Regions from separate parts of the Homo sapiens genome. Here region 1 is linked to region 2. Evidence: fine-mapped expression QTL. A gene starts in region 2. The other region holds a variant in brackets. All regions are shown on one strand. Distances are between the middles of the regions.

Evidence for each region. PIP is the estimated chance that this variant, and not a neighbour inherited with it, causes the effect.
Region 1: its variant is the best candidate, but not a certain one, in a credible set for the expression of LINC03010 in nucleus accumbens (GTEx, PIP 0.66).

Annotation. Positions count from the first base shown.
Region 1 is chr7:155,396,313-155,411,968 of GRCh38, forward strand. LINC03010 (long intergenic non-protein coding RNA 3010) reads left to right here. Exons shown (of 3, transcript NR_147174.1): 3 at 4,577-5,470. Among named protein-coding and RNA genes, the nearest start is that of LINC03010, 22 kb to the left of the region's middle. RefSeq lists an enhancer at 12,202-12,924. The variant G/A (reference allele first, on the strand shown) is at 6,675.
Region 2 is chr7:155,373,794-155,389,449 of GRCh38, forward strand. LINC03010 (long intergenic non-protein coding RNA 3010) reads left to right here and starts at 8,283. Exons shown (of 3, transcript NR_147174.1): 1 at 8,283-8,522. RefSeq lists enhancers at 1-142, 4,293-4,793, 7,529-8,340, 8,341-9,152.

The DNA of each region.
Region 1 (15,656 bases), 23 kb after region 2:
TCAAGATCAGACTGGACAACATATTGAAACCTCATGTCTACCACAAAAAAAAAAAAAAATTAGCTGGGTGTGGTGGCACACACCTGCAGTCCCAGCTACTCGGGAGGCTGAGACAAGAGGATCGCTTGAGCCCAGGAGGTTGAGGCTGCAGTGAACCATGATGGCGCCGCTGGACTCCAACCTGAGCAGCAGAGCGCAGCAGAGCAAGACCCTGTCTCACACACACACAAAAAGTAGCTCAATAAATGCATGACTGGATCTCACCTGAGGAGGGAAGAGTGAAGCGAAGGGCGATGAATTGGAATCACCCTGGCGGCCTATTTAAACCAGACAACCTCAATCTGTACTTAAACACATTGGCACCCACAGGGGGAGCTGACTGAAGGCTGCAACGTGAGTAGCAATACAGCGGTGACGGCCACCGATTATGAAATAGGACACAGGGATACAGCGGAAACACTCCCCGTGGATAGGGCAGGTGGTGAGAGGCTCTTCTCAGAGTCACATTCTGCTGGAGCTGGCTCCTGGCTCACACGAGCCGGCCGTGCACATCTCTGCAGCGCCTGGTTCAGACTCTTCTCTTCTGAGGCTGGAAGTTGGCCTTGGTGGGGGCAGCTCGTGGGGTGCCCCAGAGCCGGTTAGTGACCGTGGCCCCGCACAGCCTGCTTGGTCTCCTGCTGTGTTATCAGGGAATGGGTTCTTGAGCAGCAATTGTGCCCCCGTGGCAAAGGGAAGCGAACACAGACTTAGAGGGTTTGCTTTTTAAACACTTGAGGTCTCACAAGGCCTTAGTCCAGATGTAAGCAGAAAACCTGGGTCTCCATGGCCTCAGACCATCCAGCTCCCAAGCCCAAACCTCACCTTTAACATGGCACAGAATGTTACAAAACTCTTCCCAAGATATCAGTAATAATAGGTCATGTTGATGTGGCTCTTAAGATGGGCCAAGCTCTAGTGCAAAGAACTTTCTATGCATTAATGATTTAATCCTTTCAAAAACCCTATTGGGTGGGTAACAGTGTTTCCCTCCAAGTTGAGGAAACCGAGTGTTACAAGCTGAATTGTGTGTCCCTAAATGCTATGTGGAAGTCCTCACCCCAGAACCTCAGGGCGTGGCCTTATTCAGAAGCAGCGTCCTTGCTGATGGAATGAGTTAGGCTGAGGTCAGGCTGGAGTGGGCAGGGGCTACTCCAACATGACTGTGTCTTTCTGTGTCCGAATTGGTGGGTTATTGGTCTCACTGACTTCAAGAATGAAGCCGCGGACCCTCGCGGTGAGTGTTACAGTTCTTAAAGGCGGCGTGTCCGGAGTTTGTTCCTTCTGGTGGGTTTGTGGTCTCGCTGGCTCAGGAGTGAAGCTGCAGACCTTCGCGTGAGTGTTACAGCTCTTAAGGCAGAGCGTCTGGAGTTGTTCGTTCCTCCCGGTGGGCTCGTGGTCTCGCTGGCTTCAGGAGTGAAGCTGCAGACCTTCGTGGTGAGTGTTACAGCTCATAAAGGCAGTGTGGACCCAAAGAGTGAGCAGCAGCAAGATTTATTGCAAAGAGAGAAAGAACAAAGTTTCCACAGCCTGGAAGGGGACTGGAGCGGGTGGCAACTGCTGGCTCGGGCAGCCTGCCTTTATTCTCTTATCTGGCCCCACCCACATACTGCTGATTGGTAGAGCCGAGTGGTCTGTTTTGACAGGGCGCTGATTGGTGCGTTTACAATCCCTGAGATAGACACAAAGGTTCTCCGAGTTTCCACCAGACTCAGGAGCCCAGCTGGCTTCACCCAGTGGATCTCGCACTGGGGCTGCAGGTGGAGCTGCCTACCAGTCCCGCGCTGTGCGCCTGCACTCCTCAGCCCTTGGGTGGTCGATGGGACTGGGCGCCATGGAGCAGGGGGCAGTGTTCGTTGGGGAGGCTCGGGCTGCACAGGAGCCCACGGAGGCGGGGGGCGGGGGGCGGGGGGGGCGGGGAGGCAGGGGACGGGGGGTGCGGGGAGAGGTTCAGGCATGGCAGGCTGCAGGTCCCAAGCCCTGCCCTGCGGGAAGGCCGCTAAGGCTCGGCGAGAAATTGAGCACAGCAGCTGCTGGCCCAGGTGCTAAGCCCCTCACTGCCTGGGGCCGGTGGGGCTGGCCAGCCACTCCAAGTGCGGAGTCCGCCGAGCCCACGCCCACCCGGAAGTCACGCTGGCCCGCAAGCACCACGCGCAGCCCTGGTTCCCGCCCGCGCCTCTCCCTCCACACCTCCCGGCAAGCTGAGGGGGCCGGCTCCGGCCTTGGCCAGCCCAGGAAGGGGCTCCCACAGTGCAGCGGCGAGCTGAAGGGCTCCTCAAGTGCCGCCAAAGTGGGAGCCCAGGCAGAGGAGGCGCCGAGAGCGAGCGAGGGCTGTGAGGACTGCCAGCACTCTGTCACCTCTCACTTCTAAGACCAGAGGAGACACAGAGACACCTGGGGGAGACCAAGTGGAGACGGAGGCGGAGACGGGAGCAATTTATCCATAAGCCACGTGACGCCAAGAGTTACCAGTGGCACCAGCAGCTAAGAGAGGGCCTGGGACAGACCCTCCCTCGAAATCTCCAGAAGCAGCCAGGCCTGCTGACCCCTGGGTCTCTGCCGTCCAGCCTGCAGAGCTGTGGGAGGATACATTTCCACTGTTTTCAGCCCCCGGGTCTGTGGCACTTTGTGAAGGCTGCCCCCACAGAAGAAGACACTGAGTCTTCGAGAAGTTAGGAAGCCCTGAACCGTCCAAAGACACCAGGAGGGAAAAGGGTGGGAGGCGAGGGGCCAGCCCTCCATGTTCACGTGGCAAGCCGGAGCCAGGCTGGAGCTGAGGCCTCCACTCACCACCCAGGGTGCGCTCCGCTCACTGCCGCCCCCTGCAGGCTACCCCTGCCACCGAATCCCCCCACGTCATGGACTGCAGCCTCGCCAGCTGCCAGCCACACCCTTGCCACGTTCCTCCTCCTGTTCTCCAGCCCTGCCTCTGCTCCTGCTTCCCCTGCTGCGTGGAGACCCAGCACATCTCTTGAGCTGTGTGGCTTCTCTAAGGTGGCATCCGAGAGTTCCGCAGTTTTCCGAGAAGAGATAAACAGAACTTTTTCTCCATGACCAAGATGTCTTTCTCTCCACAACTCTGGTGTTCAATTCTTTTTATGCCAGGGAAACAGTCTCAATTTTACACTTCTACTTAACACCTGACAATTTTCCTGTAACTATTAGTGTTCAGTAGTAGTAACTATTAGGGTTCAGTAGTTGTAACTACTACTACGCAAGGAGGCGTTCTGGCGACCAGAAAAGGCTGAGGAAGGACAGGTGACAGGTGGGGCCACAAACCTCAAGGCAGGAGTGCGGGAGGAAGCACAGCACCTGGGACCACTGGCAGACCCGTCCCCTGCCTCGGAGATGCCTGTCCCTCCCGCTGAGATCACCGCCCGCCTGCCCTAGCACTGACGCACTGACCACGTTGCTGTCCTCAGGGCAACCTGTCTCCCTTCCCCTCTGACTGGCATCCCCCTGCAGACCTGGCCTTTGTGTGCCTAGAGCCGCACACAGTGCCTGACTGTGATAGATGCCAGCCAGGCTTGATCACGGCCACAAGCTCACACTCCGGGGCAGTCAGCCTGGCTCCAGCCCCAGCTCTGGTGCTTCTAGATAGCTGGTGAACCTCTGTGCGCCTCCGTCTCCTCGCTTACAGAGGTAATAGTGCTTGCCTCATTTGGGTGTTATGAGGATGAGGGGAAAAGGACCAACCCTGTGCGATGCTGGGATGTGGCCAGCACCCTGGAGGCAGCCCTAGAAAACTCCCTCCCACCAGCAGCCTAGAGTCCACAGCATTCCCACGGTGCCCGGGGCCGGGCTCCCCCGTCCCATTGCCCTGCCATCCTGGGGCATCACCCTCACCTGGGTGACTGAGGGGCAACAGCCCCACATCCGTGCTGCAGGTGGAGGGAGTGGGAAATGAGAGCGGATGGCAAGCAGCCTCCTCCATGAGGACGAGTCAAGAGGAGAGGGCGTCTCTGCACACCCCCCTGCCACCCCAGCTGCAGCCCCGCTGACACTCGTTGGCCAGGTTCCATTGCTGAAAGGAGTTAGGGGAGTCTGGACACCATGGGACAGTTGGCAGACTCAGCCCCAGGGTGTAAAACACAAAGCAGCTGTCATCTCGGGGCCAAGGTTTGCTTTGCGAAAGAAGCAGAGATGAAGGCCACGTGGAAGCCTCTGTTCGCTTCGTGCACACGATTCTGCACCCACAAACAGCCACGGTGCTAGGGGTTTCCACATGGTGTCCCCTTGACGCTCACAGAACTCCGGGGAGGCTGTGAGGTCACCCCATTTTCTGGATGAACCTCACAGTGGGAGAGGGATTTGTCACGGTCACACAGTCCAAGCATGTAAGAGAAGAGGTGCCTTCAGGACTGGCACCCAGGCGTCACTCCTGTCCCCCACTCCCTCTGCAGAAGCCCCTCAAGCCCACCGTGTGCCTGTTGACTTTCGCCCTGTGCAGCCTGCTCCAGCTCCTGGTGCTGTGCTGCGTGTACCATGCGTGCCCCTGTGGCAACGAGTCACCGACTCATCTCGTTTCCTTCCCGTGCAGATGCTTCGGGTAGCAGCCCAGCGCTCTTCACTGGACTGAAGGCACCTCTTCTCTTTAGAGAGAGAACATTTTCAAAGGTTAAGCCTAAAAATCAGGACAGATTTTACTTTGTTATTGTTGTTTCTTGAGGCCTAATTTTTAAAAAGCCTGTGTGCTGGCTGCTGATGGCCTTGATGAGAAAGTGGCCGTCAATTAAACAGACAAGGGGGAACCGAGGAATCCAGGTCAGCACGATTTCCTGATCTGTGGCAGTGACTGTGACCTGACTGGACTTGAGCTGGAACTTCAAATAACACCATTAGGTCCTAATCATATCAGAGGTGATCTAACATGACTTCCCACACCATCCCCTTTCAAAGATGCAAGTCACATGGGCACGTCTGTAAAATGCTGAAGGCTGCACCGTGTGAGCTGCACAAATTCAAAGTTTTCTGACTTTGCCAGCCCAGTAACACTGCCAGGTGCCAGCTTGTGGCATTTCTGTCAGAAACCCAGCTGGCATGAAAGTGGGTTTTTCATCCAGCCTGGAGTAGCCCCCTGCATTCAGAAATTCTTTGCCTGACTACAGAAGTCTAAATCAGGACTCACTTTCCCCCGAGCTAGAGGAGGAGGAATGTGAAGCCTTGGAAAGAGTCGGCACCATTCTGGGAGTCAGATTAGTACACCCCAAGAAAGGGAGAGTGGCTGGGCCAGCTGCGACACAGTCCCCAACCGCTACCCGTTCCTCCACCGCCCACCAAGCCCAGAGCAGCCTCCCTCAGCCAGAAGACAGCTTGGAGGATGGAAGACTGTTCAACTTGTGGCTTAAGCACATTATTAAAACCAAAGAGGAAAATTCTTTGAAGAGATGGGGTGGAGCTGAATTTAAGAGAAATAATAAAAACCATGACCAGGTTTTTCTGTGTCTGTTTTTCCTCCCTCATTTCTCCAGCAGCCTGGGGAGCACTGATAGAATAATTCCCCGGTGATTTCATCATGGAACTTCCCTTTCATCAACCTTCCACTGATCTACGTTGCCTGTGGAATAAAGTCCAAATGCCTTTGCTTGATTCTCCCTCTTCTTCCTCACCAAGCAAACGCCTTTTTAAACTAATAACGGTGGCCACCTGTGTAGAAAGCAGAAGGAATGAGGCAGGTGTGGGACAGGAAATGAGGTTGCTAAGGTATCAGTCAGCCACTGCTGTGACAAGGCTGCATAACAAATGGCCCCAACATGGAAATGGCTTCCTGCAGCAAACGTGTGTTTTTCTTGCTTTGGGGTCTCTGGGCAATGAGCAGCCCTGCGTCAGGCTGTTGGTCAAGTCTGTTCCACATGTTTCTGATTCTGGGATCAGTGGGGTCTGGGAACACTCTCCTGAGTGGATGGCAGAGATGCCAGAGAGCAAACCAGGCCGTGGATCATACTTAGTGTCTCTGCTTAGATGGGGTATTGTCACTTCTGTTCATGTTCCATTGGCAGCAGTCACCTGGCCAAGGCCAAGTCCCAGGGCAGGAATGTGTACTCCGTCCACCACAGCGGGGACCCTGCAGAACCCCATGGCACAGGTCAGACAGGCACCAATCTGTAACAGGCGGTGAAGAATTGAGAGCCATCTCTGGTTCACCACACATGCACTGTCTGAGTTTTTGGGGGCTGCCCTAGCAAATATTAATACCATGGGTGGCTTAAACAAGAGCTTTCCTTCCTCACAACTCTGGAGGCTGGAAGTCCAAGGCCAAGGTGTCAGCAGGGACTGGTTTCTCTCGACCTCCCCTCCCCCCGCCCCTGCCTTGGCTTGCAGTCAGCAGTCTCCTCACAGGGCATCCCTCTGTGTGTGTCTGTGTCCTAATCCCCCCTTCATATAAGCATACCAGCTATATTACACTAGGGCCTCCCATGTGACCTCATTTAACCTTCATGACCTCTGTGAAGACCCCAGCTTCACATACAGTCACATTCTGAGGTCCCAGGGATCAGGATCCAGCATATGAATTCAGGGGATTCAGCCCACAGCACACACCTTCTTATGTGCTTCCCCTAACCTGTAACATGGCAGGTTATGTGCATAATAGAAGGAAGAGCGGGTCCAGGTGCACAGACTTTCTCTGTTGGGGGCTT[G/A]CAACCCATGATGCAATCATGTGGATGCCCAGAAGACCACTAGGACATCCCATTGATCTTCATCATAAGAAATACAAGAGCAGTGCTGTCTCTGGTCGTGCCCACAGAGAAGGGAGTAAATAGTGAGGATTTTGTAGCCATGGGAACAAGAGGTCCTTCCAGAAGAAATGACCTCTTTGTTCTGGACCTCCAAGGGAGAGCAAGGGTGTTAGGAGCAGGGAGGGGAGGATACTTTGACTGAAAGTCTTTGCGGTGTTGGGGTGTCGTGCGCCTGGCATGGTGGGTGAGGAGGGAGCCGGGCAGAGGGCCTGGAGGGCAGAGAGCATCCCAGGAGGCCATGTTCTTTGGAGGGATTGGGGGCACAGCAGAGAAATGCAAGATTTCACTGGTCACCACGCTGCAACCAGGAGCAGATCTCGGAGAGAGAAAAGTAAGCCCAAATGGCCTCGCACAGGGTTAGAGACCAGGACCAGTACAGGACCCTCCAGGACACTGACAGGACCTGGCATGCAGGCTGGGACCGCTGTCCAATGAAGCTGCCAGGGTTCAAGCCCAAAGCCTCTCCCAGAGACAGAAGTGACCCAGGAGCCAGGGCAGGAGTCCGCAGATGCTGTTGTGCGCCTGGCGGGAGCCGTGGGTGAGCCCAGCAGGGAGGGCTGGCAGCAGACTCTCACTGGCAGCCACTTGGGCCTCTGGCTCCAGGAAGAGATGGGTTTTTGAGTCTTCAGATTAAAGGGCTTTACTCCCAGGGGCTGCGGAGGCTGGACAGAGGGGCTAAGTGGTGGGGACCCAGTAGATCTGTGACAAAGTGTCAGCCTGTGCTGCTGGCATGGGAACAAGGATGAGACCCAGGATTCCTGGCCCCACTGCAGCCTCCCATACCTCTCACCTGGTTTCCCAGGCTCCCCTTGGCCCCAAACCCACCTCACCCACCTCACCCTCATCACACCTGTCAGCTCCAGCCCCTTTCCTGAGCTACCCCATGCCAGGAGCTGGGGCTGAGACTCCCACTGAACCTTAGCTATGGGACCAGGCCAGGTGGCCAGATTCACAGCCCCCCAGTTCTAACAGCCTCTGCGAGTCAGGTGGATTTGATGGGGGGTGGGGGTTGAGCCTGGGAGGAAGCTCAGTCCATGCAGGCAGCCCCCAGCCACTGCCCACCCACCCCTCAGTGGCCCCCTCTCTACTGCGGGGATCCCTGGGGGAGCCCCTTCCTAGGGGCAGGTGCCCTCCTGAGCCTCGGTCACCAGCACCTCCCAGAAGGAAACAAAGGGGTGGGGAGCAGCCTAGGGCTCTGGCCTCGCTGCTGGAGGTGGCTGGAGGGACAGCCACCTCCAGGCACCAGGCAGGGGTCTGGCAGCTAGGGAGTGACAGCGCAGACCTGCTTATTTGCATGCCATATACTGCAGGAGACCTGCCACCGCCAACCCAGGAACAGAGAGGGAGAGACCCGCTCTGGTTTGAAGATGTCAGCACACAGCGGATCAAAAGTTTAGCCTGGAGGCTGCTGTCAGCCACTCAGACGCATAACTTTATACGGTTCCAGAGACGTGTGGTGCAGGAACTATGATGGGGAGACGACAGCAGGAGGAGGGCCATGGGGTGGGGAAGTTGGAGGTGGGCAGCCCCTGCTGGGGCTGGGGATTGGGCTGGTGCAGCCCCAGGCTGGAGGTGGGTGACTCCACCCTTTTATTTTCTGGGGCCTGCAGGTTCGGGTCCCTCAGCCCGGGCAGCAGCGTGGCCTCCACACCACGGGCCCCCCAGCGGGGCCCATCTTCCTGAGAGGTGGGGCGCCTGAGGGACTGCACCAGCATCCCCTTCAAAGCCTTCCCTGTCCCTTTTTTGCCCTCTCCCCAGAACAGCTCCCCCAGGGCGGCTGCTCTCTTCTCCACTGGGCAGGGGAGGAAGCAGGCCCAGCACTCGCCCAGGGAGGTGCCAGGACCAGAGCCCATCCCGGGAGGTGCTGCCACCTGGTCCCGTCCCCACTCACGCTGTGGAGAGGGCTCCTGTGGGTCAGAAGTCAGTTGGCACAGGCCCCCGCCTTCATCCCCAAGTGGTACCCATCATCGTTACATGGCACCTGTGGCCCCACCACCGGGTCAAGGGCTGAGCTCAGGGCCAGCATTCCCGTCTCCCCGTCTGGTGCCTGCCCAGGCCTGCTTGTGGTCTTGTGAGGAGGTGGCTCTGCAGGCTGCGGCCCTGGAAGGGGGATTCAAGCCCACCCGACTTGCTGAGGCAGCATAGGTGAGCGTCCTGCGCCTGGGGTCACCTGCCCCGCTGCCCCGGCCCCAGCACCACCGCCCGGAGGAATTTGTGGGTGTCAGTTCCCTGCTTCTCTCCTATCAGGAAACAGCTGCTTGAAATATTTTTTAAAGGAAAATATGAAGAATCAATTAGAAAGAGAATATCAAACAAGATTTTCTTGTTTAAAAAAATGACAAAATCCCTCCATATTTAAACTGAGTTCGAGAGAACCGTCCTGGTGTCTTTCTGCCTTTTCTGTGCTGCTGGCTTGGAAGCCTGACAGCAATTCTCCCAGTTTCTGAAATCTTTTTTTCACAGTCCACGGGGTGGTGTTTGCGAGACACACAGCAGAGGGCAGAGCTAGAAGGGGAGACGCAGCCGGTCCCTGGGAGAGCCACAGGCTGCCCCCGAACCCTCCACCTGTGTGCTGAGGCACGGTCCCCTCGGCTCGCCCAGTACGACTCGACTGGTTACAGGACCCCAGACTCAGTCCTCGCCCCAGTCACCCCTGCTCAGAGGTGCCAGTGGCTCTGGGCCTCTGCCTTCCTCCAGAGCCCCTTGGCTCAAAAAACCCTCAGCATCTCCCGCCCACAGCCTGTGGGGGCCTGTGCTACCCGGGCAGGGTGGGAACTGCCAGCAGCTCCTGGCCTCCCAGCAGCTCCTTCCTCCTGACACATTCCCCGTCCGGTTGGACCGTCTCCAGGAGTCCACACTCCAGCTCAGCCGGGCCATGCGGATCCCCTCACCGGAGCGTTCTTTAAGGACCAGGGCTGCCGAGCAGGTGATGGGCAGAAGGCCCCACCTCCCCACTGTGAGCCGTGTGTCTTGTGTGACCTTTCTGAGCCTTCGTGTCCTCATCTAGGTGGTGGCATTCGTGAAGCCCACAGGACGCCCCAGCAGGAAGCGGCTGTGGTTCTTGTCACCCCCACCATGGCTGCTGCCTGGCCCCACTTCAACCATGCCCGCCCCTCCGCTCGGCTGCACACAGTTTTGCTCCTCATTACAGGCTTCTCCACAGGTTTTCCTCCTGAACCATGTGGATTCTTCTTGTCTTCCCAAATCCACCAACCTCTCTGAGGGCAGGGATCAGGCATTCTTCTCAGTGTTTACTTGTGAAAGCATCTAGCAGAACTGGGGGCCTACAGACCACCTCAGAAATGGTTTGAAAGCAGAAAGTGCTACCATATGCAGTTGAAATTCCCAGGCAATTATGCATGTAAAAATTCCTGGTTGTATACATGGAACATCAAAGATCAGAAGGAAAGAATCAAATGCCTGACTGTGCTATGATAGCGCCATTTCCTTTAACTCGTTTCACAAACGCAGATAGAGCGCTTACCCCGAACCAGGCATGTTGCTGCGTGATTGATAAATATTAACTAAATTAATCTTTGAAACCACCCCATGAGGTGGGTATTATTGTTGTCACCCTTTCAAAAATGTGGAAACCGGGGTGGGGAGATGTTAAGACGCTCAGTCAAGGTCACACAGCTCACCCGCGGTAGAGCTGGGGTTCAAATGCAAGTGGTCTCGGTCCAGTGTTTACGGCTTTAAGGTGTGTTGGCTCCAGGGATGAGTCTTCATTTCTTCTGGGGGCTGCGGTTATGAAGAGACCGGCCCCAGACCCAGAGCCAATGCCGCCAGGCACTTTCTGAGAGGAGCAGCGGCGGTGTGAGAGTGTGGAGTGTGAGAGTGTGGGGTGTGAGAGTGTGGGGTGTGAGAGTGTGGGGGTGTGGGAGTGTGGGGTGTGAGAGTGTGGGGTGTGGGAGTGTGGGGTGTGAGAGTGTGGACTGTGAGAGTGTGGGGTGTGAGAGTGTGGGCTGTGGGAGTGTGGGGTGTGGGAGTGTGGGGTGTGGGAGTGTGGGGTGTGGGAGTGTGGGGTGTGGGAGTGTGGGCTGTGGGAGTGTGGGGTGTGGGGTGTGGAGTGTGGGGTGTGGAGTGCGGGGTGTGGAGTGTGGGGTGTGGGAGTGTGCGGTGTGGGAGTGTGGGGTGTGAGAGTGTGGGGTGTGGGAGTGTGGGCTGTGGGAGTGTGGGGTGTGGGGTGTGGAGTGTGGGGTGTGGAGTGCGGGGTGTGGAGTGCGGGGTGTGAGAGTGTGGGGTGTGAGAGTGTGGGGTGTGAGAGTGTGGGGTGTGGGAGTTTGAGGTGTGCGTGTGTCGGGTGTGGGAGTATGGGGTGTGGGATGTGAGAGTGTGGGGTGTGAGAGTGTGGGGTGTGGGAGTTTGAGGTGTGCGTGTGTCGGGTGTGGGAGTATGGGGTGTGGGATGTGAGAGTGTGGGGTGTGAGAGTGTGGGGTGTGGGAGTGTGGGATGTGAGAATGTGAGGTGTGGGAGTGTGGGGTGTGAGTGTGGGGTGTGTGAATGTGGTGTGTGAGAGTGTGGGGTGTGGGAGTGTGCAGTGTGTGAGTGTGGAGTGTGGGGTATGGGGTGTGGGAGTGTGGGGTGTGAGAGTGTGGGAGTGTGGGGTGTGGGGTGTGGTGTGTGGGAGTGTGGAGTGTGTGTGGAGTGTGGGGTACGGGGTGCGGGAGTGTGGGGTTTGGGAGTGCAGGATGTGGGGTGTGAGAGTGTGGAATGTGGGGTGTGGGAGTGTGGGGTATGAGTGTGTGGGGTGTGGGAGTGTGGGGTGTGTGAATGTGGGGTGTGAGTGTTGTGTTTGTGGGGGGGTGTGGGAATGTGGGGTGTGGGAGTGTGGGGTGTGAGAGTGTCGGGTGTGGGAGTGTGAGAGTGTGGGAGTGTGGGGTGTGAGAGTGTGGGGTGAGTGTGGGGTGTGAGAATGTGGGGTGTCAGATTGGGTGTGGGAGTGTGGGGTGTGAGAGTGTGGGGTTTGAGAGTGTGGGATGTGCGAGTGTGGTGAGTGAGAATGTGGGGTGTGGGAGTGTGGAGTGTGTGAGTGTGGAGTGTGGAGTATGGGGTGTGGGAGTGTGGGGTGTTGGAGTGTGGGGTGTGAGAATGTGGGAGTGTGGGGTGTGGGAGTGTGAGAGTGTGAGTGTGGGTGTGGGAGTAGGAGTGTGAGAGTGGGGCGTGGGAGTGTGGGGTGTGGGAGTGTGGAGTGTGGGGTGTGGGAGTGTGGGGTTTGGGAGTGTGGGGTGTGGGAGTGTGGGTTGTTGGAGTGTCAGGTGTGGGAGTGTGGGGTGTGGGAGTGTAGGGTGTAGGAGTGTGGAGTGTAGGAGTGTGAGAGTGGGGCGTGGGAGTGTGGGGTGTGGGGTGTGGGAGTGTGTGGTTTGGTAGTGTGGGGTGTGGGAGTGTGGGGTGTGGGAGTTTGAGGTGTGGGAGTGTGGTGTGTGGGAGTGTGGTGTGTGGGAGTGTGGTGTGTGGGAGTGTGGGGTGTGGGAGTGTGGGGTGTGGGAGTGTGGGGTGTGGGAGTGTTGGTTATGGGAGTGTGGGGTGGGGAGTGTGGGGTGTGGGGTGTGGGAGTGTGGTGTGTGGGAGTGTGGGGTGTGGGTGTGTGTGGTGTGGGAGTGTTGGTTATGGGAGTGTGGGGTGTGGGAGTGTGGGGTGTGGGAGTGTCCGGTGTGGGAGTTTGAGGTGTGGGTGTGTCGGGTGTGGGAGTGTCGGGTGTGGGTATGTGTGGTGTGGGAGTGTGGGTTATGGGAGTGTGCGGTGTGGGAGTGTGGCAGGCCACCCTGAGCTGGAGAGAGCAGCGACGGCTCCACCTTCCCTCCAGGGCTCTCTGCTTCTTCCCGCCCCAGCCACCGTCTCCTTGCCTGGCCCGGCGCCCCTCGGGACCTGACAGTTGTCAACCCCTTAGTGTAGATGTTCTTGACCTGCTGTACCTCCTGGGAATAAAGGAGAAATCGCCTAAAGGAATGAGTGTGTAATAGTGAAGTTCCAGACACAGTGGCACCTACGGCGGGGAATTCCTTGGGGTGGGGCAGGAACCCCCTACTGCCTTCACGCTAACCCATAGTGCCGCTCACGGCTGTCAAAGCTTGTCTGTGGCGCAGCTGTGGAGTCCTGGCCGCAGTGGGGAAGGGAACTGACTGCCGAGGCCGGAGGGCAGCCGGCCTGCCGAGGGGAACAGCTGGATCTAGGTCCAGGTCATGGGTAGGTGGGCGCGCAGGCAGACTTTCGTGATGTTGTGCACTTGACGTGTTGTGCTGGACTTCCACAGCAGACAGGAAGGGTGAACAGAGCAGCCCTTCAGAGAGAAGCACTGGGCAGTCACAGGGATTTGAGGGAGGGTGGAGGACACCCTGCAAGCCCTGCGTGGCCACCAACAGGCAGCGCCCTGCAGCAAGGGGGCCACCGTGTCCCAGCCTCTGCCGCCGCTTCTGTGCCATGAGACACTGGTGGGGGCACGTCTCCTGGGGGATGCAGAGCGCAGCACGCGAGGCGGGCTGTGGGCTCACGGGGCTGCCCCCTCCTAGCCTGGCCCCCAGTATCCGCAGAGTCCCTCCTCCCGAGGCTGTGCTCACCTGGCTCTCACCTGGTTGGTGTTTGCTCAGCACCTCAGCCAGGGGCCAGGAGCCGCACAGACAGACTCCCAGGGTGCAGGGGTTTCATTTGAAAAGATCAAGAACGAAACCCAAGCGGACTCGGTTGCTCAGAGCCATCAGGCCATAGCTTTGAGTGGCAGTCCGGGTGGTTCAGTGACTTTGAAATGGTTTCAGGATGGTGTGTGTGTGCTTGTGTGTCTGCACGTGTGTCTGAGTGTGCTTGCGTGTCTGTGCTTGTGTGTGAGTGTACTTGTGTGTGCTTGTGTGAGTGTATCTCTGTGTGTGAGTGTACCTGTGCTTGTGAGTGTGTCGGTGCTTGTGTGTGTGCTTGTGCGTGTCTGTGTGTGAATGTGTTTGTGAGGGTGTGTGCGCACGCATGTGAGAGCGCAGGTGTCTGTGTGTATAGAAGAGTGTGTTGTGTGAATGCATGCATGTGCTTACCCTTTGTATCCCCCACCTGCTTCCCTGCCTTGCCCACGCTCATGCGGGGAGGGGGCGCGGGGAGGGGGCGCAGGACGGGCCTGGTCCAGGCGCACAGGTATCCTTGGAGAGGGGCCACGCTCCAATGCCCAGGCTCCACTTCACGCACCCTTTGGGACTCCCTGAGGACCCTGCACCTGGGCCAGCCAGCAGCCTGGTGACGCGGGGATCATGCTCCCATGCTAAGGAGAGAGCCAAGGGTCAGGAGAGAGCCAAGGGTCAGCAGGAATGCACAGATGGCCGCGTCTGAAGCCACGGAGTCAAGTCTCCCCTTCCTGCCCTGCGTCACCTGGCTGATGACTTACCTGCACCGCACCATGCAGAGGAAATTGCTCAGATAGCATCTCTCCTGGAAGCAGGGCTGCAGAGATCTGAGGGGTAACCCATCCCCTCTGCTCCCCTGTCCCAGAAGCAGGCTAGTCCTTGTAAGTTGCATTGCCTTAGGGGAGATGACATTCCTCGCCAGATGCCCTTCTTCTTGTAATTACCATGAATAGGAATGCAGCCCCCGCTTCTCCAGACCTGGCCAACTGGGGGATAGCTCCTGGCTGGAAGCCCTGTTGCATATTGTATCAGTTTCCTAGTTTCCTGTGGCTGCTGTAACAAATTACAAGCTTAGTGGCTTGGAACAGCACGCATGCATTACCTTACAGTCCCGGAGGCCAGAGGGCCGGCCCAGGTCTCACTGGGCTAAGGTCAAGGTGTTGGCCAGGCTGGGTCCTTCTGGAGGCTCTGGGAGGGGAACAGTTTCCTGCCTTTTCCAGCTTCTCGGGTTGCCCACATTCCTTAGCACATGGTCCCTTCCTCCATCTTCACAGGCAGCAAAGTTGCCTCTGTCTGGCCATCTTTCCTAGTCACACCTGCCCCTGGCCTTAGCTAGGAAAGACCCAGGACACTCTCCTGTCTCCAGGGCCTCAGTCTCATCTGCAAAGTCCCCCGGGCCACACAAGGCAACAGACCCACAGGTTCTAGGGATTTGATCATGGACATCATGGGGAAGCCATTGTTCTGCCAACATCTAATAATAGAGACCCCCAAGTTTCCTCCCTCTTCTTGGGCCAGGAGTCCCCTGGGGCTCCCTGCCTCCTCACTAACCACTGTGACCTTGCTCCAGGGCCCGTAATGTGCCTCTTCCTCACTGTGACCTTTGCCAGTTCCCGACCAAGGCCTCCCCACCACTCTTACCTCCTTTTCCCAGGAAGAGGGGGTCCCTCCAGGTCATCTGGGGGGTCTCTCCCCTCCTGCTTTCCCACAGCCTCCCTCTGAGGAACTCGGTGAGCCTTCCTCAGAAGGCCTTCCAGAGACCCCTTGCAAAGCCCAGCCCTAATGTGCCGTCCCCCACCTACCACTGAGGCCCCACAGGGCTCACCCACAGCAGACACTCACTGCAGATGTGGAGGTGCCTTAGTGCCTCCCCCTTATTTGACAGTCTTAAACATATGCCCTAAAACCCAACTGTCAGCCCCAAAGATGACCACCACCCATCCACCACATTGCTGGAGCCACAGAGCGACCAAGGGCTGACCCCTCCAGCCAACAGTGTGATCTGGGGAGTTACTCAGTCTCTCTGTGCCTCAGTTTTCTGGTCTAGGAAATGGGGATGATAATAATAGTATCAACCTCATAAGGCTGCTGCGAAGCTTAACTGAAATAATATGAATATTCGGCATAGCAACATGCTCAGTAAAAGTTAGCCATCATCATCACCATCATCATGGCCATCATCATCACCATCATCTTCATTGCCATCATCTTCATCACCATCATCATCACCATCATCTTCAATGCCATCATCATCACCATCATCGTCATCGTAATCTTCATC
Region 2 (15,656 bases):
CAAAAGCAGGCGGCGGACTTGCAGTCCCAGCGGCCTCGGCCGGTCCGCGCTGCCGGTGTGAGCCCCGAAGGAAAGCACCCCAAGCTGGCTGACCCCGCGCACCCCCGGCCACACCCGCCCATCCTGGCTTCGAGATTAAGAAGCCCAGTTTGGCACCCCAATTATGTTTGGCAATGTCCCCGGTGCCCCAGACCCGCACTCCGCTGCCTCCTGGCTTCTCATGCCCGCGAAGCACGGCCTCGCCCTGGGCGCGGGGCATCACCGGCGCGGAGGCCCGAGGGCGGGTCACTTCGGATCCCTTTCTTCCCTTCCTCGTCTCTGCCTCTTTTCCTTTCTTTTCTCCCTCCGCCTCTCTGTCAGCTCTTCCCGTCGTTTCCTCGGCACCCAGCTCCAGTCCAGGCGCTGTCCCAGGGTAGGAAGAAGGGCGATGCCCCTTCTTCCCCTTCTCTGGTCCCCTCCCCAGCCTCCGGCTCCCCAAGGTGCAGGGCTCCGGCGGGGGCTGGGCCGGGCGGGTGGGTTTCTGAGCCGCAGCGCTTGGAGCTGGGGGAGCGGGAGCAGGGGCGGCCCGGCGGGCGGGCCGGGACCCGGCTTTTCCGGCTACCCGTGGGCCAGGTGCGGGTTTCAGCACGCGGGGCGCGTGTGGGCGGAGGCGCCGGGGCCCGCGGCTCCGCTTGTTCGCGCGTTGTCGCTGGCGAGGCGTTTCTTGTCCCCGGCGCCCGCTCGGTGCCGTCTCAGTGAGTTTGATTGAAACGCGGCTGCGGGAAGGGGTCGACAGAGGCAAGCTGCGAGCAAGGCGGGGGTGGGGGCGAGGAAGGGGACCCGGAGAGCTCCCGGAGGGCTTGGCCGGCCACCGCCGCGCGGCGCTGCTCGGGGACTGCTACTTTGCAAGGCGGCGGCTGCCCCTGCGGGGTTCGGGTTGCAGGGTCAAGTGTCACGTCCTCCGCAATCTCCAATATTCCTGTAATGTATTTAAATGGACGAATTCATTACGCGGGGCCGTGTGAATGGGGCGAGGCCGCGAGCGCGGCGCGATCAGTAGCGCCCACTAACAGTTCGTTCTGCACGGCGGAGCGCGAGACCGCGGACCCACGGAAGCCCCCTCAATGGTGTTTGCGTCCTCGCCGCCACCGGCTTGGTAGGGTCCTTTAGGGAAGGAGGAAGAGTTCAGGCACCCGGACAGATCCTAATGGTCTTTCTGATTTTTCTTTCCCTTCGGTCCGCTTTCCCCGCGACCTCCTCCACCCTCAGTCCGCCTTTCAAACGTCGTCCGCGGGGATGGCTGCGCGATGGAGAAATTGGTCTCGTCCAGAGACGCGCGCACAGCCGTCCCCGCGCACACGCGACACGCCCAGGGCCGGCGTCCACGTGAGGGCAGCACCCTAGGTCGGGTCAGTCAAACCCCACAGCGGGGTTTCAAACAGTGTAGGGGAGGGGAAGTAGGAAAGGTCATTAAGATAAAAACAAAAATAAAAACCAGTGGCTCTTCTAGCTAAGGGGATGGCAGCGGGGGTGGAAAGTTAATAACAGGTAAGATCGCTGCCTACCCTCCCTCTGTTTTTAAGACAAAACATTGAATAAATTAAAAGGGAAAATACCCCCTGTCCCTTCCACCAGGCCTCCCGCCACATCAGGACTCCAGTGGGGTAACAGTAGGTACACACTGGACTTGCCAAGTCTGCAATCCAGCAGTCCTCAGATTAGGGACCGGAGGAAGGAAGTGCAACTCCCAGAGAGGGCAGCCAGCCTTAGCGGCGGTGACAGCTTCCTCACGGTGGTCCTGCAGCTGGAGCTCCAGAGAAAGAAGGGAGGAAGCACTTCCGGAAGTCTCTGCCAAGAGATTTTAAATTGTGTTGCCTGCGGATTTTGTGGTTGAAAGAATTACCTGGTGACTTGCCAAATCTCTGAGTTTGTTGAAAGGAGATGACCTGCCCTTAGAAACCCCTCCATTCCTGCCTACCTCCGAGACCAGAGGCTGTGCCTCTCTTTCTCTTTTCTTTCCTAGTCCCCACAGGAGGGAGGAGGAAGGTTACAGCGTTTGTGGAATCAGGCTGCCAGGCGACGTTTCGTGGTTGTATTTGGCCCACTAAATCCTAGGTCGCTCTTCCTATGTACGACTGTAGACTCACCTTCTGTATCTTATACAGGAGATGTGTAGATGGCCCATAAAGGGCAGACTTCATACAAACCCTGTGTGAGCAGTGGGATTCACTGTAGGAGGTGCAGTGGGTATTTTCTCAAAGGCATTTACACCCAAGAGTTAACACCAAGTTGACGGGACCAGAGGGTCTTTGGTGAGCAGGCCACCAGAGATGGAAAGGAAGCTTCTCTTGTTCTCTGGTGCCAGTTGTGGCTGGATCTTCGCATCCTGGAGCCCAGCAGTCCTGTGATGTAGTGAGTCAATCCAAGACCCAAATGTAGGCAGGAGGCATCCTTGCTTCCTTCAAGAACAAGTCAGAGAATCAAGTAAGGAGGAAATAAGTGACATGCTAGTGAAGGCACAGTTATCTAGATGGTTGTTATGGGGTTCTCGTCTCGCCAAGCTTTAGATAGATCTGTTTCCGGAAAGCTCACTTTTAAAAAAATCAGATTTGAAGATTGTTGGAATTCTGGCTCTTTATAGTGAGTCACATCTCTATAGTCAGTTCATTTTCACTCGCATATGAGGTCTCAGTTTGAGCATCATGTTTTAAACTGTCTGCAATTTGATTTACTGGAAATACACCTCTACAGAGAAGGTGTAGTCTTTCCTGGTTCCATTCCCAATAGTATGAGGGTTATGTGTGAAGTTATTTGCATTTGTGTTCTCTGTCATTTTCAAATCACGGAATTTAAGAAGTATGTATAAATAGATTAAGTGCACAATAATACAACAAACCTAAAAGAGTTGGCAAATTAAACCTTGAAATTCTTTACAAAATTCCATATCTTATAAAGGACAACCATTAAGGGGACTTTGGTGTCAATATTTTCTGTAATGCAAGCCCTTTAATACTTTTCCACCACAACCTAAATTTGTCTGTAATCAAGCTACTGAGATAGGAATGCTGCATTCTCATTTTCCTCCTCCTATAAGCCTCTGTACCAAAACATTCAAAGGCCAGGCATTTACTTTTTATTTATACATATTAAAAATTTCTTCCAGGAGTGAAGTTTCCAAACACAACGTGTCTGGACAGGAAGCAAATGTTGTTTTAGGGGAAAGTTCTAATAACCCCATTTATGCAAGCACATTAGAGCAGAAAGAATCATTTCTGTTAGTTAACATTTTTGAGCCAGAAAATTAAAAACAAATATTTAACTTCCCAATTTGGAATTCAGGCTGGCATTGACGTCTAAACTTTGACAATGCATACTCAATGAATTAAACACAATCTCTACTAGCCAAATAAAACTGCCTTCATGTGGCTCAAAATAAGTTTGAATAAACTGAAAGATAAATAAAATGCACGGGGGACACCCAGGAAGAGAGCTGATGTGTGTGAGCTTGGCCAAAAGACGGCTTTTGGACTCTGCTCAACTCAGGGGTTTTATGACACCTAATAAAGCTATACTTAGAGAAGACAAATATTCAATAAATATGAGCACATACTTACAAACATATGTACTGTTTTCACTTTTCTTCTTCCAAACCTACTTTTACAGCAGTTTATTATTGGATATGAATTTCCCCTTCTCCATTTCTCATCACAAATTAGGTGGGCTCCTAAAGCGTCCCATTTCTCCCTTTAGATTTGGGGCCCCCCAGCTGATAAAGGAGTTGTGATTGCAGGTGGATTTGATCTGATTTCCCCTGAACAGGCTGGCGGTGGGAAGCAGGCATTGGAGTCCCACGGCTCACTGGACTGCAGCAGCGAGCCCTTCACGGTTGCAAAGGAAGGAAATTCCTAGCGGGGCAACTCTTCAGCGTCCGCCCCACAGACCTAGCACGATGTCCTTTTCTGTCTCAAGATACATCTGGCTGGGCTTCCCTAAAACCGGGCTTAGTTGGACTCCTTGGACCTGGGGATGAATTCTTGCCAACTATCTCCAAATATTTCCCCTACACCATGCCAGTGCAATTCATGTCTCCAAACCCCCTCTCCTCCACAAAAACGAAACAAAACAAAACCCCAGGTCCAGGAGCTCAGGCCCAGGCCGGATCCAAGACGCGGCAGCCAGGCAGCCCCGCCGCGAGCCTGTGCGGGCTTGAGCCGGCTTGGCCCCCGGAAGCCCCAGCCCCGCGCTCGGCAGCGTGCGCCCAGCGCCCAGAAGAAGCAGCTCCAGGCGGCCGCGCTCCCCGTCCCGCCGCGGTGCGGTCGGATGCCCAGCTCGCGTCCAGACCCGCGGGATGCAGACCCGGATCAGTCAGGCTTGAGGGCTGCTCCGCATAGACCAACGTCCGGGGAAGGCACACAGTGGCCGAGGGCCCGCGCGCTTGGGCTACGGCTGTGATGGTATCTGCGCTGCTTGCGCCTTGGGGATGGGAGGCCGCCTTTGCTGACTGAAGGGCCTGAAGAGGAGGCTTCTGGGGTCCCTGTAGCCTCACCCTGGATTCACAAAATCAAACACTATCTCCTTTCCCCTTCACCACCCCCACCCCACGAATACACATGGTGAAGAGAGGTTCACTTCTGTTCCTGTTGCTGAGTTTCAGCTATGCCCCTCGGCCTCGGAGGATGGCTCACCTTTACTGTGAATTTCTAGCTGAAAGAACAATGCTGAGAACAGGGATAACAAGAGGACCTCTCTAACAAATGCATCTGCTAGTTACAAAAGGGCTGGGAAGAACGGCTCAGGGACATTCCTCCCAGACCCAAGGAAAGGGAATGGAGACACATTTTGATGTTTTCTACATACTTGGTCAACTTGCAGCTACTATAGAACCCGCTCCCCACGGCCAGCTCTTCCTCCTGTTTTAGGGAGAATTTTGTTCAACATTCTACATTCTAGGGACCCTTCCTCATCAGATTAAGTGCAGAGTTACAGCAAAATAAGTCAGAGGAGAAGGATGGGGTAGAGATGGAGCGGAAGCTGGCGCTGGAGCCACTGTGTCCTGCCGGCTGCACCTGCACTCAATCTCAGGTACCATGCTGGACAGTGGGGAAAACAAAAACCTGGAGAACAGCCCAGAAAACTCCGCCAAGGTTTTATAGCTTAAAGATGGGGAGAGGAGGAGGCAGGAAGGGTTGGGCTCTGCAGGCCTTTAGAACGATCGGAGGTCTAATGAAAATAAATACCTTGTAAACATGTGGGTACCAAGTAACCAGAAGAGAGCTTAGACCAAGAAGGTCGGGGGGTCTTTTCCCACCTGTGAGAAAATAAGAGATCCTGGAGCTCTGCAGCCTTAGCAATGAACTGGATTACTGATTAGTGTTTAGAGGCACCCATGCATGAGTTGGCAAACCAAGCCATTGAAATGTGGAATCAGCAGGATCTGGCTTTTTGAATGTCCATTACTTCTCATGTACATGCATATCTATGTTAAATATGGAAAAGAAGAAAAAATTTAAAAGAGAAACAGAACCCTGCTTTACCAGATTAATCAAAATGGAATGATAGATTCTTGAGTTTGAAATAACCCCCGCCCCAGGAATTCTCCAGCGTCTCTGCAAGAAGCTCTCAGACAGACAGCAGTTAAACAAGGTCGGCAAAACCGACTCTCAGATTCAACAAACTGCTCTTTCTGTTTCTGCAACAGGAAGAAAACATTCCACGAGCTGATGGAAGCCCTCACAGACATACATCTGTTATGGCTTTCCCAGAATCCTGACCCCTGGACAATTCTTTTGGGAACACCCTTCTCTATCTAAGGAAAATGACATTCCTAAACCCTGCCCTGCCACCTCACATATGCAGAGTCTGAAAGGGAAGCCAAAACCCCTTGGTCATCCTCACTCTCAGCCCTCTGCCCAAAAGGGGGAACTTTGATCAAATGCAACTTTCTTCTCCTTTGGCCCCAAGCTTCTGTGCCCTCAGTTCACACTCACCCAGAATGCAAAAGCATTTGGATTCAGTGCTGTCCCCTCTGGCTTTCTGTCTGTCATTTGGCCTGGAAAGGACGGTCAGAAATGCCATGGACAGTTACAATTCGACTCAGTAACTTCCACATGGCTCATGAATGTCCTTGGCCACCCGGGAACTGCAGCCCTCTGCCCCCCAAGTTAATTGCTAAATGATTTGCAAACTTAAACAATTATACATTCTCTCTTGACTTGCCCCGAAGAAATCATGTTAATTTATGACACACTCACATGATCCTGATTAACAAACCTAGACTAAATTTGCATGTGGCAAAATGCAATACAGATATATATTTTAAAAAATAATATAAGCAGGTTTTTGCCAACTCTTTTCTCCCACGGTTTAATGACCTACCATCCTGGTTCATACGTTTTTTAACACCTGACTTTGGATATTTTTTTAAAATGAATCGATTTGTAGTCATTGCCTGGCTGCCTGTGGGGAAGGAGCTCCTGCCGTTGGCAGACACCTCTGCAGCCAGGCGTGGGGTGTCCTTCCATCAAAGCAACGCCAGGGGGCAAGAAGCGTTAACAAAGCCCGGGACGCTCCGCACTCTCCCTTTATCTACCCGTGTGTGCGTGTCACACTTTCCAGGGCGAAATGTCATTTTGCAAGGTTATACATTTCCAATTCCTCATAGAGCCTTATCGCTCATCATTTACCTCTTGGGCACAAACAAACAGCCTCTTTAAATAAAGCCAGGGAAGGGAAGCATATACCTTTGTACAATTAAAAATAGCACAAGAATGCCAAAATGTATTGGACCTTGCTGTTAATCCGACTTACCTGGCTGACACTCTGGCCTAATCCTATTTTCTCCTCGCATTAGAATGACTCTACAAGGCTACGTTTTGTTCTTCGGGAGCACAGTTTACCTGGCCAGTGGGCTGAGGATCAGAGAAGCCTCACCACCTAAGGTGGGGAGAGGGGCTGCAGACTGCCCAGCCTGGCCCCAGCCTGCTGGAGGTCCCAGTGCAGAGCCTGCTTGGCGAGACAGAAAGCAAACGAAATCACTCAAGGGAAACTTCGCTGGAGACAAAACACATTCAATTTCCTGAGGATTCTGCTTTCTCTCAGGAATTATTTGCTTTTGCCGAGGCACATTAAACAAATTAAACACTAAAAATGGAAGCTCCTTTGCTTCCTGGCTCAGAAAATAGTTTTTTTTTTAAAGGATATAGTACGAACAGTAATACAAATGAAAGAAAACAGTAACACTCTAGCTCTTTAAAATAAACTCATGTGGGCACCTAAAGTCCTTTTTGGCAAATTCTTATCTTGTGGGGCAGTGCAGACAATGGGAGCTTGTGCTAAACGGCTGCTGTCACTCTGCTGACATTCCAGGAAGCTTCCACGCAGCTACTTGGGCATCTTTTCACACCTTCACCTTCCAAACCGCAGTCCCTGGTGATCCTGACTTTTGCAGCCTGGCTCTGGGTCCACACGGGGCTGGAGAAGGGGATTCGGTCTGAATGGGTTCGTGGAGGGTGGGGCAGGGGGCTGAGCTGAGGAACGCGCTGGCGAGGGAGTCAGATACTGTTACTTCGTATTTTAGGAATGTATTTCTCCTGCACACCCCTCCCTCCCCTGCCCACCCCCCTCTCCCAGTATCATTGCTCTTTGAAATGTCATGAACTTGGCGCTTTCAGACCAAACCGCCGGGCTCAGGCCCGAGACAATGGGATTGTCAGAGGGCCAGCGCGGAGCTTTTTCTGCGTGTTCACGGAGCGTTAAGCCTTTATCCCACAGAACGGCTCTGTCTGACCGGGTCAGACAAAAGCCAACTTGCATCTTCCGCTCCGAGGGGATCTGGGCAGAGCCCGGGTACAGCCCTGCGCGGCCCCAGGGAGAGGGGGGAGAGGGCGCGTGTCCCCAGCCCTGCCAAGTGGCGTGGGGAGCGCGAGGCCCTCCTCGGTCAGAGCCACCAACTCTGGTCTCCGTGGACATCCCCCTTCCCCCGCCCGCTCCCGAGGCTCTAGGGCGGCCTCCTGGCCGCTGCCTTCTCGCACCCAGGGTCTTCGGCCTGGGCTCCACACCTCAGGCCCCTCAAGTAATCGGCCTCTTGGTGGCCGGGCACTGCCTTTCCGGCTGCTCTCTGCACCCGTCTGCCCCTCCGGCCTCCCCTGGCGGCTACAGGCGTCCGGGGCCCTCGCTCCCCAGCTCCAGGCGTCCCGGGAGCCAGGCGCGCAGCGGGGCGAGTTCTCGTGTCCGTGTGAGCGCGGGCGTGTGTATGCGTGCGCGTGCACGAGCGTGAGTGTGCGTGAGCGTGAGTTTGAGTGTGCATGCGGGTGTGAATGTGTACATGTACACGAATGTGAGTGTGAGTGTGCATGAGCGTGAGCGTGCGTGTGCGTGCGAGTGTGCACGAGCGTGACTGTGAGTGTGCGTGCGTGGAAGCGCGGCGGGGAGCCTGGCTGAAGGCCTGCTGCCTGCATGGCTGTCAGAGAAAAACAGAAGTGGGAGCCTGCTGCGGGCTCCGAGAGGACTTGATGGGAGCCCTGGCGCGCGCTGGGCACCGCGCGGTGAGTGTCGGGGGTGGGGGCCGCGGGTCTCCAGCAGCCCCTGCCCTGTGCGGACCGCCGCCCCGAGGGTCCCTGCTTGCGGGTCCGGGGCTGGGCGTGCCTGGCTCCCCCTTGCCCCCTGCTCCACCGGCAGGATTCAAGGGACGAGAGCTCTGGGCTGCGGAGAGTTGCCCTGGCTGGCCCCGTCCTGCAGCAAAGGGCGGGCGGCGCGAGTGGAGTGTGCGGGGCAGGCTGGGCGGCAGAGGGAGCCCAGGGGAGCCCATGGCATGGCACCGCCAGTGTGGGCTTATGAGGAGGTGCAGGCCGGGACCTCAGGCTGTGGGCAGGACCGCAGGCAGCGGCTGGCAGGCTCCAGGCAGGCTCTGGAGGACCCGGGATTTAGGTATTTATGCAGTGAGAAGGCAGGGGTTTGGGTGTTCTTTCTCCCCTCTTCCTCCTTGGAATTCAATTTCTTCGAAGGGCAGGGGGCAGGCCGGGAGGGAGGGACAGAGAAAGAGGCCGCGAGCCACAAATGCCGCCCCCCATCTGTTCAGTAGGGCTCACTTCCTGAGGCAGGGGTCCCTAGCACAGGGTCTGGGGAAGGCAAGGTGGGGGGTATAGGCTACCCAGATAAGGAGGGACTTGCTAGGTAGTGGCCCTGGGTCTTGAGGGGCTGGTTCCATCCCGATTGGTCCCCTGGTGCCTGGAGGGCTGTGGAGGGTCCCAGGCCTAGAGTTGGGGGCTGAGTGGGAGGACGGGCCTCACAACCTGGGATTTCTTTCCAGCTTCTGGGTCTGGATCTGGGCCTCCAGTCCCCAGCTGTGAAGCAGGAAGGGAGGGAGGGAGCCTTTCTGAGACCCTCCAGCCTCTACCCTGCAGGAAGAGGTGGATGTAACCTTGAGCATAACCTTGAGCAAGTCTTCCCAGCTTTTTAGGCCTCCACTTCCTCACCTGTAAAAGGAGCTGATGGGGGTAGACCATGTCGAATGTTACTTCTGGCTGAAACATTTTTTGTTGTGTTTTGTTTTAATTTGTGCAGAGTTGGACCTACTCTCTCATGGTGCAAATTTATTTCATTTCAGTTTCCGAGGCCAGGCATAGAATCCCTGTATATTCCCAGGGACAGTGACGCCTTATGCAGAGGATGGGCAACATAGAAAATAACCCTACCTGGGGGCACAGACAACTTATTCTTTAAAATGACCAAATGAAGCTAAATTGAAACAAAATTTTTTTTAAGTGAAATGAAACCAGTGATGCTGAGACTGAGTTGGCAGGCTGGGGAGGAAGACCTGGAAGCGTGTGTGGGCTCTCTGGGGAGTGCTCCTGGCTGGGTGCGGTCTCGGGTGGCCAGGCTGGGCAGAGGCGTTTCAGGATTTGATGGGAATCTTTGGCCTTGAGCTGTCTCCCCTACCTGCAAAGGCCAAGGCCTTCCCTCCACTGGCTGAAGTTGGTTGGGCTCTGCCCATCCATCCGAGCCTGCAAATTACTCACGGGGGGCTGCTAGTGCTGCCTGTGCAGGCTGGGGCCAGATGGGAACACTTTGTGGGGGCTGGCCAGCCTGGGACAGCAAGCAGCTGCTAGATTATTCCAACCCCTTTCTGTGTTCTTCACACCAGCAGGGGCTGGGGAGGCCGAGAGCCACAGCACAGCTTCAGAGAGGCCCCTTGGAGGTGTTCACAAACCCCCTGCTTCCCAGGAGGGGCACCCAGGTGTAGTTCCAGCCTAGCCTCTTTTCCCACGCCCGCCTTCTCTGGGGGGTGTCTCTGGGGGGTGTCTGGTCTGCGGAGCAGGGTCCAGACTTGCTTGTCTCCACGCTTCTCAACGCCTCCCCTCCACTGCCTCCTGCCTGGCTTCTCAGCAGCGGTGGGTGCTGGAGGTGGACTGGGTCATCTCCCCAGCCTCCCCAGCCTCCCCAGTCCTGCTCACCTGTTGGGGAATCACTGCCTGATTGTCACTTTACCCCTCTGCATCAGCTTCCCGGCATTGCCTTAGCGAAGTGCCACAAACCGGGGGGCCTACACAACAGGAATGTGTTCCCCCACAGGACCGGAGTCCAAAGTCCAGGCGTGGGCAGGGCCCTTCCCGCCCTGTTGGCCTCTGCTGTCTCCAGGAACGCTTGCTCCCTGGGCTCAGAGGTGCAGCATCCCAAAGCCACCTCTGCCTTCGCCATGTGGCTCTCACATGGTGCGCGTCTGCCCTTCCCATCCCGGCTCCTGAAGGAGAGCACTTGGAGAAAAGTGGGGATGCTCTATTGCTGCTCTCCCCACTGCTTGGTGTACCCCTGACGCCCTCCTGGGCCCTCACACCCTGGAGCACCCTGTCCCTGCACCCGCCCTGAACCAGAATCCAGGTCCAGCCAGGGCTGCAGCACAGCAGCACCAACGACGGGCGCATGGGGACAATAGCTGGAGGAGATTTGGGGCTCAGAAGAGAGGGGCTCCGGGGAACCCTCAATTGCTCATTTTGGCAGCATCTCCACTGGGTCTACATGCCAGGCAGCACACAGCCAGGACTTCAGGTTGTGTCCCCTGACTCGGAGTGGAGAAGGGGCAGGTGCTGGACCTGCAAACCTCAGACCCCACGCCTGGCTCCTGCTCTGTCTACGGTGTTTGGGAATTCACTTGGCCTCCAGGAATCGGCTTTCTCCTCTGTGAGATGGGAAGGCCATTCGGTATCCTAAGTACCCAATGGGCTGAAGATCAAACAAGATACAGGGTACGTGAGTTCTAAGAGCAAGGCTGAGTGTCACTGTTGGGGGCGGGGGTCCTTGCTCCCAGAGCTCCCAAGATGGTGGCGGGTGGCTTCCAAGATGGCAGCAAGCCTCTTGCTCTCTGACCTGGGGTTCTTGGCTTCACGGATTCCAAGGAATGAACCCTTGGGCCATGTGGTGAGTGTCATAGCTCTATTAGAAGCCGTGGGTCACAGAAGAGAACCGCGGAACCCAGCGACTAGTGTTCAGCTCGATTAGGATGAACCCGGGCACTTAGCCGTGCAGGAACAATGGTGAGCCTTTAGCCCGATCGGGAGCGGCAATGGGCGCCTCGCTGGATCAGAAGCGCAGTGGACACCCTGCTGGATCCGGAGGGATGGAAGTCGGCGGCGGGTCTGCGACGGCGGCAAACAGCAGTGGTGGACGGCGAGTGAAAGCTCAGCTCCAGCCATAACAAACACGGACCAGAAGAGTGGGCAGTTGCAAGATTTAATAGAGTGAAAACAGAGCTCCCATACAAACGGAGGGGACCCAAAGAGGGTAGCCATTGCCGGCTCGAATGCCTGGGTTTATATCCGGATCACTGTCCCTCCCGCTGTGCTCTCAGGCAATAGATGATTGGCTATTTCTTTACCTCCTGCTTTTGCCTAATTAGCATTTTGGTGAGCTCTCTTTACTACCTGATTGGTCGGTTGTGAGCTAAGTTGCAAGCCCCGTGTTTAGCGGTGGATGCGGTCACCTTCCCAGCTAGGCTTAGGGATTCTTAGTCAGCCTGGGAAATCCAGCTAGTCCTGTCTCTCACCACCTGGGAGCTTTGGCTCTTTGGGTGGTTCTAAACAGCATCAAGGTTGAGACCAATGTTATCTTTGGGGTCTCCACCCCCTGAAAACTGCCCCTACTTGCTAGTTCCTGCCAGGAAGACCCAGGTGATCAGCTTCCCTCAAAGCCCAGGGCAGAAGCACTCTGGTGGCCCCAGGTGCCTAGAGACAGGCAGAAGGGAGACACCCATGAGTCACTCCTCCACTTCTTCCAGAGACCATGCCGTTTTTTTCTTGTTTGTTTTTTGAAAGTGTCAAAAAGCCATGAGCACAAAGGCTCCCCTCTGCGCTGTGACTCTGGGAATCTGGAATAGAAACAGAAGCTCTCATCCCCAGGGACACCTTTCCTGGCACTGCTCCCCAGCCTCCTCCCAGCTCCAGGCTGAGAAGGGCGTCCCTCCTCCGTGTCCCTGCAGCAGCCAGCACCGAGGTCTGCCTCCACCCTAGCCACAGTGTGCTGCCATGTTGTGTTTCTGGGCCTGTCCCCAATGTCAAATCCTAGAGGCTAGGCCTCTTGTCTCTGTATCTCCAGGACAACAGGGTGTTTCACAGGCCTGCAGGCAGCAGGTGCTTAACAAACGGGTGTGAATGCAACCCTGGTCACCTCTCTGTCCATGGGGATGAGGAAGCTCTCCCCTTTGCCTGGAAGTTGTATTCCAAAAAGACATGACATAGGGTAGCATTGAATCAAAGCATCCTTCCCACCCTCAACTCCATAGACAGGGACAAGAAGAGAAGTCTTGTTGCAATGAGGAAGGAAGAGATGTAGGTTAAAATCCAGACAAGTTACCACTAACCCAGAACATTTAGGATTCCAGCTGTCATGTGCGGGGATCCAGATGCTGCCATCAGAGGGGTGGTGCTGCAGACGGAAAGCAGCTAGAACAACTGGCTGCGAGCCCCTCCCTCTGCAGCCCTGGGAGATGACTTCGGAAAGCCATCTCAATCCCTCAATCCCAAACCGCAGAGTGATGCCTCAGGCTGTGGGTAATTTCCCAAGGCCACGATCTCAGATAGGACCCCTTCGCCTCCCAAAGAGTTTGCTGGGCTTTCCCCAGTCTTGGGCGGACTTGGATGAGTGATCTTCCCTCCCTGCTAGAACCTTTGTGCTTGCAGTTCACATGAACTTGAGCGTGGATCTAATCATAGGGATGCAGGCCCGCAGCTGTGCAGACACAGATGCTGCATGAATGCATGCCTGCAGAAATGACGGATGCCATAATTCAAACGCTGAGGCGGCAGGCACAGGGGCCGGGTGTGTGTGCACACTTCCTACGTGCAACGAACTCCTTCGGTCCTCAGGACACATCTGTGAGGGTGGCCTGAGATCACCCCCATTTTGCAGATGAGGAAACAGATGTGTGGAGGGCCTGGGACGCACCAGGCCAGTGTCTGCCGGAGCTTGGGCTGTGCTGTGGGGGTGAGGGGCAATCGTGGGCCAAAGCCAAGGCCTTGCTCCTGGGGAATCCACTTAGCTTGACTGCTCGGTGGCCACCTCCGCCCATCACCACCCAGGGGAATAAACACTGCAGGTCATGTGGGGCGGGGGCAGTCTGCACGCTGGGGGTAGATCCACGCAGATTCCGTGCCTCCCGCAGAGGGGCTGAGGGTAGCACTTGGGTGGCTGTGCCAGGAGGAGCCCAGCCCAGGGAGAGGGTGTGTGCAGCTGGAGTCCTGGCTGCCAAGATCTAGGCAGTGGGGGCTTGGGCAGAGCCAGGTCTCATCACGGCATCTCTCAGGCAGGCCTTGTCCTCTCATCTGCAGAATAGGGCTACTAAAACCTCCCGTATGGGGTTGTTGAGATGAACCAATTGGGGAAAATGGAAAGTACTTTGAAAAGTTTGAAGCTGTATACAATAGCCATCTGTTGTCCTCAAAGTGAGTGGTCCTTGGGGGCAGGCTTGCTACAAAGTAAACAACCTGGGGCAAAAGGTTTTAGTTGTTTAGACAAGAACACACTGCCTTTCATCAGTGTGGGAAAGAACTGGATCGGGAATTAGACCACGTGGGCTTCAGCCTGTCAAAAGGTGTTTTCAAGTAGCTTATTTTAAGGGCCCTTTTATAATAGCTCATTAGCTCAAAATGTTTGACATTTTATATCTGAAGATGGGGCGAACAGGTGCCTTCATCAGGTGGGAATTCTGGGGGTGCTGTTGTGGCTAAGGGTGGTCCCTTTGATTGTCATTCATGTTCTGTCTTTCCTTCAGTCCCCTTGTGTCTAAAAACAATGCATTCTTATTGGGACTGCAATTTTGGTCATAGAAAAGCCTTTTGGTCTCAGGTTCCTGGGGCCGTGTGGCCACTGGATGAAAAAGCATTAGGTGGAGTTTATCTAAACTATAAAATAGATTAAGATTAAAAAAAAAAAAGAATAGGCCAACCTTAGTCAAGGGGAGAATTAAGATAAAAAAAAGAAAGCATAGGCATCTCCAGGGTATGCCCACTCTATGGCCCTAGGAACAAAAAGCAGACACTCCTCCAATCCCATCAGTTTCCAGAAGAAGAAACTGAAGTCCTCAGTGGTCCAATGAGTTACCTGATAGCTGCTTACTCTCCCACTCTTACTGATTTCATCAATCCACAGGTTTGTACTAATGAGTCATACCTGCAAATTTTTCAGTCCAGTTAGGAAGACAAAGCCACTGACAAGAAGCACCAAGGGGAGGACAAGGGCTCAGTGTCACGGAGAGTGTGCCAGGTGGTAGGAGTTCCTGGAAGGGAGGGAAGCTCCGCAGAGGCTGAGCCTTTCCGAGGGCTCGGAGGAGGGCAGGGGTTGACCAGAGAAGGCCTCCTCTGCACCTGTGCCCCATCCTTCTAGTCTGGGCCTGCTGGGCTTTCCCTTGCAGGACTGGTGGCTTTCACAGTGAAGACTGTAGAAGGTGTGTGCACTCCCCGGGCCCCTGTGGTCGTCCCAGCTCAGTGACAGCATCCCTCCTGTGATCTCTGTCAGCCCCAGGAGCTGCAGCGTTGCCCCCCACCAGACGATTGGCTGCTGCCCTCAGTGGCTCCCGGAAGCCAAAGGCAGTCTGCAGCCGGCCTCAGTGAGCCTTCGGGGGTCCTCTAGTAACCGGGTTCCTGAGCTCTTCCTGTGTGCAGACTGTGCTGTGTTCATTGCTGCCCAGCAGCGGGGCAGGTGGGGCAGGTGGGCCAGGGTTGCTGTAGCTTCCTCCCTTCCCAGAGAAGGGGAAGAACAAAGCCTCAGGAAGGAAATGAGCTGCTCAAGGTCATGGGTGGCGGTGAGGCGAGCCCCTGGAACCTGAGGCCATGCCACGTCCTCTGGGGTCAGATGGGAGCGGGTAGGGAGGGGCAGGCAGCCCTGACCCAAACCTTGGAAAGTGTGTCTCTTGTGTGCTGTGAAGAAGCGTAGTTCCCCATTTTACAGTGGAGAGGACAGATCATTTGTCGGGGGGTCACCAGGTGGCAGGGCATGGAGCCAGAATTTAAATCCAGGTTTCCTGATGCCAAAGCTGGCCAATCCTCAACTTCTATGCTGAAGTCAACCTTCAGGCCAGGTTGGTGCTGCCCTGGCTAAGAGGCACTGGCCATGGAGCCTCTTCTCCTCCTAGACACAAGCCAGATCCTCCATACGTAGAGGGGCTCCCAGAGCACGACAGGCATGGGTGC